Linked DNA regions of Homo sapiens. The protein of the gene in region 1 interacts with the protein of each later gene in a pairwise test. Each region holds a gene or a part of one and is shown in the gene's direction. Other genes may lie near its edges.

What was found.
Region 2: the proteins of SSX5 (region 1) and NFE2 interact in a two-hybrid assay, tested with the Homo sapiens proteins (one large-scale study listed by BioGRID and IntAct).
Region 3: the proteins of SSX5 (region 1) and PCBD2 interact in a two-hybrid assay, tested with the Homo sapiens proteins (one large-scale study listed by BioGRID and IntAct).

What each region holds. Positions count from the first base shown.
Region 1 is NC_000023.11:48,186,796-48,190,447, reverse strand, and holds part of SSX5 (protein SSX5), read left to right. Parts: intron 1-179; coding exon 180-315; intron 316-2,716; coding exon 2,717-2,817; 3' UTR 2,818-2,821; intron 2,822-3,311; exon of another isoform or gene 3,312-3,368; intron 3,369-3,591; 3' UTR 3,592-3,652. UniProt on the Homo sapiens protein: Could act as a modulator of transcription.
Region 2 is NC_000012.12:54,294,757-54,298,110, reverse strand, and holds part of NFE2 (transcription factor NF-E2 45 kDa subunit), read left to right. Parts: intron 1-162; exon of another isoform or gene 163-347; intron 348-2,352; exon of another isoform or gene 2,353-2,567; intron 2,568-2,806; 5' UTR 2,807-2,862; coding exon 2,863-2,976; intron 2,977-3,257; exon of another isoform or gene 3,258-3,354. UniProt on the Homo sapiens protein: Component of the NF-E2 complex essential for regulating erythroid and megakaryocytic maturation and differentiation. Binds to the hypersensitive site 2 (HS2) of the beta-globin control region (LCR).
Region 3 is NC_000005.10:134,911,576-134,915,227, forward strand, and holds part of PCBD2 (pterin-4-alpha-carbinolamine dehydratase 2), read left to right. Parts: intron 1-3,652.

The sequences.
Region 1 (3,652 bases):
GGCCATTCCTTTCCCATCTAACCTCCCCTCCCAGGTTTCTCCTAATTTAGGCAAGTGTAACTCTCCTAGCATTGTTGAGAACATTGATTAAGGTAATGCATGTGAAGATTCTTTGTAAGCTCTAAAGCACTAAAGAAATGTCACTGATACTGTTTATCTGTGACCTTCACATTATAAAGATCACGCCCGAGAAGCCAGCAGAGGAAGGAAATGATTCGAAGGGAGTGCCAGAAGCATCTGGCCCACAGAACAATGGGAAACAGCTGCGCCCCTCAGGAAAACTAAATACCTCTGAGAAGGTTAACAAGACATCTGGTAAGAGAAAAGAATTTGGGAACAACCACTCTGGCTTTTCTCGCTAAGTTCAGGTGTGTGGACTGGGTGTGTGGCATGGACCCCAGACAAGCCTGGGTCCAGGCTGGGCTGAGGAGCTCGCCCAGCTCCAGATGAGATGTTACACATGACTTCCAGAGACACAGACTGGAGTTGTCATTCATATAAAAAAACCACGTGACTTGGGGCAAGTCTTCCAAATTTTCTTAGCTCCAGTTTCCTAGTTTATAAGTTGGAAATAAAGAATCTCAGTTCATAAATTGTTTGGAGGCATTAAATTAAGTCTAGAAGGCCTGATGACATGAAAGGTGCTGAAGCAATTCCATCTGTGATTACCTGGGATCATATCTTACTCAGCTCAATGCCTGTTACCCGATATAGGTGTACTTCAGAGATATTGCATGTTCAGTTCCAGACCACTGCGATAAAGTGAGTCACACACATTTTTTTCTTGGTTTGGCAGTGCATAAAAACATTATGTTTACAATATACTGAAGTCTACTAAGTTTGCACTAGCATTGTGTCTCAAAATGTATATATCTTAATTTTAAAATAATTCATTGTATAAAATGCTAATAATCTTCTGCGACTTCAGTGAGTCACACTCTTTTTGCTGGTGGAGGATCCTGCCTGGGTGTTGATGGCTGCTGGCTGATCAAGGTGGTGGTTGCTGAAGGGTGGAGTGGCTGTGGCAGTTTCATAAAAGAAGACAACAATGAAATTTGCCACATCGATTAGCTCTTCCGTTCATGAATGCTTTCTCTGTAGTATGTGATGCTTTTGGATAGCATTTTACCCACAGTAGAACTTCTTTCAAAGTTGAAGTCAATGCTCTCTAGCTATGAAAGTCCTAGATGGCATCTCCTTCCAATAGAAGGCTATTTTATCTACATTGAAAATCTGTTGTTTAGTGTAGCCACCTTCATCAGTGATCTTAGCTAGATCTTCCGGATAACTTGCTGCAGCTTCTCCATCAGGGTTTGCTGCTTCACCTTGCACTTTTATGTTATGGAGACGGCTTCTTTCCTTAAACCTCATGAACCAACCTCTGCTAGCTTCACACGTTTCTCCTGCAGCTTCTTCACCTCTCTCAGAATTCATGGACTTGAAGAGAGTTTGGGTCTTGCCCTGAATTAGACTTTGGCTTAAGGGAATGTTGTGGCTGGTTTCGTCTTCTATCCTGACCACTTTCTCATTTAAGCAGTAAGGCAGTTTTGCTTTCTTATTCTTGTGTTCACTGGAGTATTAGTATTATTATTTTCTTCAAGAACTTTTCCTTTGCATTATATACTATTACTTCCTTCAAGAACTTTTCCTTTGCATTCACAGCTTGGCTGTTTGGTGCAAGAGGCTTAGCTTTCAGCCTGTCTTGGCTTTCAGCATGCTTCCTCACTAAGCTTAGCCATTTCTAGCTTCTGATTTAAAGTGAGAGACATGCGACTCTTCCTTTCATTTCAACACTTAGCGGCCATTGTAGGGTTGTTAATCTTCCTAATTTCGGTGTTGATATGTCTCAGGAAATACAGATGCCCAAGAAAAGGAAGAGAGGCAGGGAAGAGCTCATCGGTGGAGCAGTCAGAACACACACAATATTTGTCGATTAAGTTTGTCAACTTCTATGAGTGCAGTTCCTGTTACCCCCAGAATAATTACATACAACAGGGTGATTATAGTCAATAATAACTTAATTGTGCAGTATGAAAACTAAAAGAGTGTAAATGGATTGATTGTAACCAAGGATAAATGTTTGAGGGGATAGATCCCTTATTTTCCATGATGTGATTTTTACGCATTTGCATGCCTGTATCAAAACGTCTCATGTATCCCATAAGTATATACACCTACTGTGTACCCACAAAAATAAAAAACAGAAATTATTTTAAAAGACTAAAAAACAATAAAAACAATTGCAGTAATAATATCAAAGCTCACTGATCACAAATCACCATAACAGATATAATAATAATGGAAAAGTGTAAAATTGGTGAGAATTTCCAAAAAAAAAATTGCAACATCTGTGAAGCAGTATGAAAATGAGGTGCAATAAAACAAGGTACGCCTGTGTGGCCTTAATAAATACGTGCTGAATGAAAGGAGGTAAGGGTGAATGTTCCCGTAAGTGAAGAGGTTGGGAATCTAAACCTGACAACGGAAGGAGCCAGAAGCTAAAACTTTAATTTGCATTTGGCCTGTATTGGTGTGGGTCTAAGGTCTCAGCCTCTCTAAGCCAGAGAATGTGAAAAACTGGATAAAGAAGACCCATGGGCACTTGGTGGTGGGGAGGCATCTCCTTTTTTGGAGAAAACAGAGCCTAACACTCTCCAATCAACCCAACCCTCTCCAATCTACCCAACCCTCATCTTCCAACTCTTCTCCATCATAGGACCCAAAAGGGGGAAACATGCCTGGACCCACAGAGTGCGTGAGAGAAAGCAACTGGTGATTTATGAAGAGATCAGCGACCCTCAGGAAGATGACGAGTAACTCCGTAAGTGAACCTTTGGCTCATCTCCCACATCCTTGCAGATGTGCTATTCTGTTATGGTACTGGTATCCCATCTTATCAGTTGTTCCCCAAATCATTCCCTTCTCATAATTTTCTAGGGTACAGCATTGAGGCTGAATGATGAAATTTCCCATGTTTTTTTTTGTGGGTGGGGGAGTCTCCTTTTGTTCCCCCAGGCTGGAGTGCAGTGGCATGATCTCGGCTCACTGCAAGCTCCGCCTCCCGTGTTCACGCCATTCTCCTGCCTCAGCCTCCCCAGTAGCTGGGGCTACAAGCACCCGCCACCACGACCGGGTAATTTTTTTTCTTGTATTTTTAGTAGAGACAGGGTTTCGCCATGTCAGCCAGAATGGTCTCAATCTCCTGACCTCGTGATCCATCTGCCTCCGCCTCCCAAAGTGTTGTGACTACAGGCGTGAGCCTCTGCGCCTGCCTAACCATGCTCTTTCTACTCCCTGCCCTCTATATCCAGGGATCCTCCCTACCCAGGATGCTGTGGGTTCCCAAACCCCAGGTCAGCACTGATATGCGGGCCACACCTTCCTCTAGCCTAGGAATTGATAACCCAGGCGAGGAAGTCACTGTGGTATGAGCAGATGGTTCACTTCAAGGAACCATGGAAGGCGTGTACAGGTCCTGAGGTAGGGCAGAATCGGAGTGGGCAGGGTCTGCAGGTCAGGAGGAGTTGAGATTGAGTTGTCATGTGGTGGGAACTCACTGCCACTTACTTTCCTTCTCGCTTCTTGCCTCAGCCTCGGGGATATGACACATGCCCATGATGAGAAGCAGAACGTGGTGACCTTTCACGAACAT
Region 2 (3,354 bases), on another chromosome or scaffold:
TTGGGGTGAGTAAAGAACTGTGAAGCAAGAGTCATTGTCTCTGCCTCCTAAACCCCTTCTCCATTCACTTTGCCTTTGGGCAATTTCCGCCAGAACCTGGGTGGAGGAGGGTGGGGTTCCGGTGTTGAAATGGCATCCTGGACAGACATAAACACCCCACCCACTCTGCCCACTGGCAGAGTTGCCTACACCAACTCCCATCTCTGGGGATGGCAGTAAAACAAGGGGATGGAGGCAAGGGCTAGGGGAGATACTCTTTCAAAAGGATCATTTGTAGTTCCTACTAATTTTGTGGTAAGTCGAAGAGAAGATTCCATATTAAATTGCTGTGATGGGCCATCCTTGTGGTGAGTGGTCTAAGGTCATGCAATTTGAGGTCATACAATCCTATCCTCTGTCCTTCTTTTTCTTTCTTTTCTTTTTTTTTTTTTTTTTTTTTTTTTCCGAAACAGAGTCTCACTCTGTCGCCCAGGCTGGAGTGCAGTGGTGCGATCTTAGCTCACTGCAACCTCCGCCTCCCGGGTTCAAGCAATTCTCCCTGCCTCAGCCTCCTGAGTAGCTGGGATTACAGGCGCCCACCACCAAGCCTGGCTATTACTTGTATTTTTAGTAGAGATGGGGGTTTCACCATGTTGGCCAGGCTGGTTTCGAACTCCTGACCTCAGGTGATCCACCTGCCTCAGCCTCCCAAAGTCCTAGGATTACAGGTGTGAGCCACTGCACCTGGCCGTTTTTTTTTTTTTTTTTTTTTTTTGAGACAGGGTCTTGCTCTGTCACCCAGGCTCTCGAGTGCGGTGGCACAATCATGGCTCACTGCAGCCGTGACCTTTCAGGTTCAAGTGATCCTCCCACCTCAGCCTCCTGAGTAGCTGGGACCACAGATGTGTGCCATTATGCCTAGCTAATTTCTGCATTTTTAGTGGAGATGGGTTTTCACCGTGTTTCTCAGGCTGATCTCAAACTCCTGGGCTCAAGCAATCCTTCCACCTTGGCCTCCCAAAGTGCTTCCCCTCTCCCATGTTTCCTTCATCCTAGCCTGCTTCCCTATACTGATATGGCACGGTATGTCTGTGTGCGTGCACATAGACACAATGTCTGACCGTAGAGATCAGGAAGACCTTGCCAAATCTACTTGGAATCTCTTGCTGACGGCAGGGAAAACAGATGCAAGGAAGGTGGGTGTCAGGGAATAGGGAGGTAGCATGAGGAGAGGGACTGACAGAAGAAGATAAAGACACGGGTGAGGGTTTGCTGAGAATTCTAAGCTATCCAAGCAGAAAGGGACCTCCAAGGTCAATTTGTCCAACTCCCTGGTTTTACAAATGAGGAAACAGAGGCCCAGAGAAGTGAGATGGCTTGCCCAACATCACACTGCTGCTTTGTGGCAGAGCTGCAACTAGAACCCAGGTCAAAAGAAAAGGGACTGGAGGGCAGTGTATATTCAAGGCTCTAAAGAGACATTGCCCAGAAGGAGAAAGAGAGACTGACACTCCACAGAAAGAACTGATGAATGTAGACTTCCAGTAGAGGTTTGGAGTATGAAGATACAGGGGCAGGAGGGGAAGGTGCCTAGAAGACATTATAGTCAGGTAGAGTCAGGTTCTGGACCTCATCCTGCTATTATTTATCAGCTTCAGTCTCAGTTTCTGATGTACCTTTAGAATCTTTGTGAAAACCAGTCTTTTTTTTTTTTTTTTTTTTGAGACATAGTCTAACTCTGTCAGCCAGGCTGGAGTGCAGTGGCGCGATCTCGGCTCTCTGCAGCCTCCACCTCCTGGGTTCAAGTGATTCTCCTGCCTCAGCTTCCCGAGTAGCTGGGACTACAGACATGTGCCACCCCACCACGCCCAGCTAATTTTTGTATTTTTAGTAGAGACGGGGTTTCCATGTTGGCCAGGCTGGTCTCGAACTCCTGACCTCAGGTGATCCACCTGCCTTGGCCTCCCAAAGTGCTGGGATTACAGGCCTGAGCCACCGCGCCCGATGAAAACCAATCTTATAAACTAAGCTTGCAATACCAGCACAGTTCTTAACAAGTGCTTACTAAGTCTTTACTAAGGTTATATTACCTCAGAAGAGGAAAGACTTCTGATTGTATGGGTTAAGGTATGGCCCAAATGACCCTGTGAGGACACAGGACAGAGGTCCAGTGTCTCCAGAGCCCATTCCTTCTGTGCCTCTGCTGCCTGCAACTGATAAACCTCTTATCTGGCCCAGGCAGGGGAGCCCAGGGCCAGGATAGGAGGAGAGGGCAGAGCTGCTATCAACCACCAGGCCTGGGCCATATCTTGGAGAGGAGGAGGGGCTGTCTGCTTGCCTCTTTCCACAACTTGTTCTTGGGGATCCTCAAGCATATACTGTCATCATCTTGGAAAGAAAAGGCTGAGAACGTAAAACTGAGGACAGAGGAGGAAAGCAGGGTGACCCCTGATGTTGCCCTAGAAAATGGAAAACAAAACACAGCAAAACAGAAAAACAGAAGATCTGACTCTGCCTTTAGCCAGGAAAACAGTTTGGGGGAGTAAAAAGTATTAGGGAAAAGAGTGGGCATTTTGCCTGGAAAAAAGGTAAAGACCTCCTGTGCTACCAAAGGAACTGACTGTGGCCATAGTTGGCGAGGTGGAGATCACAACACAGGAAAAGACTTTCCATCTTAAGGGATTGATGAATCCAGCATGAGTGAGGATGGGGAGGAGGCGGTCTCTCCTTCCCTCAGGGGAAGCTGGAGGGAGCCCCTCCAAGGAGGTAGTGCAAACTTGCTGACCCTAGCAGGTGTAGCTCTAACACCTCTTTTCCTTTGACACAGGTTTCTAGAGCCATCTGGGCTTTCCGGGAACCTGGACCAGACTCTGGCCCAGTAGGATGTCCCCGTGTCCTCCCCAGCAGAGCAGGAACAGGGTGATACAGCTGTCCACTTCAGAGCTAGGAGAGATGGAACTGACTTGGCAGGAGATCATGTCCATCACCGAGCTGCAGGTGAGTAAGGGGGGATAGGGCAGGGGAGGCCGTGTGTCGGAGAAGAGAGAAGCAGGGAGTTGGCCAGGACTGAGGCAGAGGGCAGGAGCAAGCAGGGCTCAGGGCTGGTAATGCTCCAGGCACTGGGAAAGGAAGGGAAAGATCCGGATGGAAGACACTGAGGAACGTTGAGGAGGAGGAGTGGAGGAGCAGTGGTGGGGAGGGAATGATCTGATTGGGAGTGTAGGCTCTCTCAGCAGCCACTTGACTCACATCTCTCTCTACCCCACCTCCTGCTCTCCCTCCCGTGCTCACCTTCTTCTCTTCTGACCTGCCTCTCTGATCCTGCCATCTTCTTCCCTCATTACCTCCGCCTGCCCTTGGCAACTGGGCCCGTTT
Region 3 (3,652 bases), on another chromosome or scaffold:
CTGGGTACAAACAGGCATTTGATAAATGCAGACATTGATTACAGTGTTTGCTAGTTTCTAGAAGGGTGTGTGAGGACCAGATTTGCACCAAAGAAACCTTCGGCATGTTTTCCTAGTAAATGTCATTGGCTCCACTGAGCTGCATGCCCGATTCTGTTCTCTATCCATCTGGCTGCCAGCCTCTGCTGTGAGTCTCCAACTCCTAAGGAAACCTGGACCAAGCAGACTCCCTGTCCCCGCTGCCCCACGTGCTCAACAGCTCTTGTTAGGGGCTTAGCACGCTGTGGCTGGTGGCAGGGAATCCCATTGGTACAGTAAGCCTGTGCATAAGCTCTAGGTAGCATTTTCCAAGCTTATTAAAATTCTTACATATGTACAGCTTGACTTCTTTAAACCTGGCCTAATTTATTGGGCTTGAACATGTGGCTTAAAGTACTCGAATGGTGTTGCCTCAGGCCCTGCCTATGATTCAGTCCTCCAGCACCATTCTGACCTTGCGCTCAGGGTGACTTTCAGCAATGGTAGGGAAGCATACTGGATTGATTGTAACATTATTCACTGGGGCATTTAATTAAGTAGACTTTTTTTTTCCCATTCACCCAACTTTTAGGAAAAAGAGGCAGATGACAAGAAAATCAGCTGATGTCAGGGAATGTATTCAGAGAACCAACACTGAGATTATATCCGGGGGTCAGTTTTCCCACTAGGCTCCTATGACTTCTGCGTGTACCATGGCCTGTAATGGTAACTGGTGTCCTGACAGTTGTCAGTGCCCTCCAGCGAAACACAACTAGGAACACACCTACAGTCGAACAAGTTGAGCTTATTGCTTATTGCTGTGAGGGAGAGTGCACACCAAAGGGCACCGTGGGGTGAGCCCATATAGGATTTGGGCTGTGGTAGTGATTTGGGGACTTTACTCTGGATTAGATGCTGTCAGGAAATGGGCAACTCTGTCATTTGGTATTTTAATAAATCGTATCTATAGGGAGAGTAGATTAAAGCAGTGCCAAAGCTGAAACTGAAGAAGAAGCAATAGTCACTCATTAGCTGGGAGAGGAGGATGTTTGGTATTTTGTGGCTTGGACAATGTTCATGTTTTGTCTGTGTTCAGGTATTGCAGAGTGGTCTTGTTTTTGTCTTCATCCATCATGGTCACAGAGTGGCCTTGTCTGGTGTTGATGTTGATGTTCGAAAGGAGAGCACCAAGGACTGGTTGATAGTACCAGGCCAGCGCCCAGGTGTCAGGAGTTGGTTTTCTCTTGCTCACAACTCGTGAGTAGAGTAGTGACCCTCTGGCGCTGATGGGTCCTCATTCATCTTTCATTTAGGACAGAAAAGCCATTGTTTTTTATTGTAACAACAGCATAACATTAAAATAGGATGGTGTAAGTAAAAAAAATTTCCAATCGCAACTACTTTTATTTTTCTCTGTTCTCTTCTGGTCTTTCTCCATGGGTATGTTTGTTTGCCAAGTATGCCAGAGCATGCCAGTTATACATGTGGTTACATTTAAAAAAATTTTTTAAATTTTATCATGAAATATTTATTAATTCAACAAAGATTTATTAAGCATTTTCTGTGTGCTAGGTGCTACTCTAAGCTCATACAGCTCCCATCCCAGTGGGAAAATAAACAATAAACAGATGAATAGGAAATATAATTTCAGCTAGTGATGAGTACCCTGAAGAATAAAGTAGGGAATTGGAGTGGAGGGGGACAGAGGCACTCTTGGAGGTAGAGTGGTCTGGAAAGTCCTCTCTGGGGAGGGGATCTCTGAGGCCTGAATAATGTGAAGGAGCTCAGCACATGGTGATCCAAGGGAAGAGCTTTCCAGCTGGAGAACAGCAAGCACAGAGTTTCCAAAGCAGAATGACCTTGGCATGATTGAGCCAGAAGCAGAAGGCCAGTGTGGAGTGGAGCAGGCGAGGAGACGAGGGGAAGGGTCAGAGCATGGGGGCCTTCTTGGCGTGGTGAGGAGTTTGGATTTTATTCTGTGAAGGAAAGCTAATGGAGGATTTCAGGCAGAGAAGTGTCATCCTGTGGCTGTGTTCTAAAAAATCACCCTGGCTGTTCTGCTCAGAATAGGCGGTAGGAAGGTCAGAGTGGAAGCAGGCAGACTCTGTAGAACACTGTTGCAGATGTCTAGACCGGGGATGATGGGGGTCTTATGGAGGTATCAGTGGGGATGGAGAGAAATGTAGGGTTCCACATATTTTGAAAGTAGAATAATCAAGACTTGCTGAATGATTGGATGTGTGATAGGGGAGGGTCAAGGATGGCACCAAGGTTTTGGTTCAAGCTATAGTGTAAAGGGTAGTGCCACTGGAGCCATTTACTGAGCTGTGGAAGATGGGGTGCAAGGTGGGGGGCAGGGGTATGGAGGTGAGAATCCTGTTTTCACATGTCAGGTTTGAGGTACTTATTAGTCATCCAAATGGAGTTATTGGGTTAGGAGGTGGGTGTAAGAGGCTGGAGTTCAGGCTGAGACAGCAGTTTGTGAGTTGTCAGAGGGGATCACTGTGAGAGCATGGTCCAGTTAGGCAGGAGAGGACAGGATCAGATGGGCAGTGGAGGCACAGCGATGATATGTCCATTGTGGTTTAGATGCCAATAGGCCGTTACATTCATCCTGGGAAAAAGAGGGCCATTCTCTCCTGATTGCTTTTGTTTTTTAGTGAGATCATCAATTGAGAGCAAGTAGGGGTGGAAGGGAAGAGTGTTGGAGACCTGGGGAGATAAGAGAAGGAGTGGAATAGTCATTTTGGAGACTAAGATAGTGAAAAAACTTGAGAAACGTGGCTGGTTGCTAAGCAGTTCTCAGTGTCACTACAGATTTGGGGTCAAACATTTAAAGTGAACATTTTGTATGTTTTTTTTCCTGCTGTGTTCCGCTGCTGTGCACAAGCTGGAGTAGATGCAGAGTTGGGCTTAACAAGGACTGAACTTTTGCTAAATGAATGCAATGGAGGAACAGAGGGACAAGGGAAAAAAGGGAGGGACAGAAACGCTGGCCCTTGGAGTCTCGGCAGGGTAGGGAAGTACAGTTGTGATGGGGAGGTGATAGTGATGAGCTGAGAGTGTCATTTGACATCATCTATTTTTTTTTTTTTCAGATGGAGTTTCACTCTTGTCACCCAGTCTGGAGTACAATGGTGCGATCTTGGCTCACTGCAACCTCCACCTCCCAGATTCAAGTGATTCTTCTGCCTCAGCCTCCAGAGTAGCTGGGATTACAGGCGCCCGCCATCATGCCCAGCTAATTTTTTGTATTTATAGTAGAGATGGGGTTTTGCCATGTTGGCCAGGCTGGTCTTGAATTCCTGACCTCAGGTGATCTGCCCGCCTCGGCCTACCAAAGTGTTGGGATTACAGGCATGAGCCACTGCACCCAGTTGACATCATCTTTTTGAAGGGAAATTGAGCAATGCCTATCAACTTTTAAAACTCACATACCAGAGCCGGGCGCGGTGGCTCACATCTGTAATCCCAGCACTTTGGGAAGCTGAGGTAGGTGGATCACGAAGTCAGGAGTTCGAGACCAGCCTGACCAACCTGGTGAAACCCTGTCTCTACCAAAAATACAAAAATTAACCAGGCGTGGTGGCGTGCGCCTGTAATCCCAGCTACTCAGGAGGCTGAGGGAGGAGAA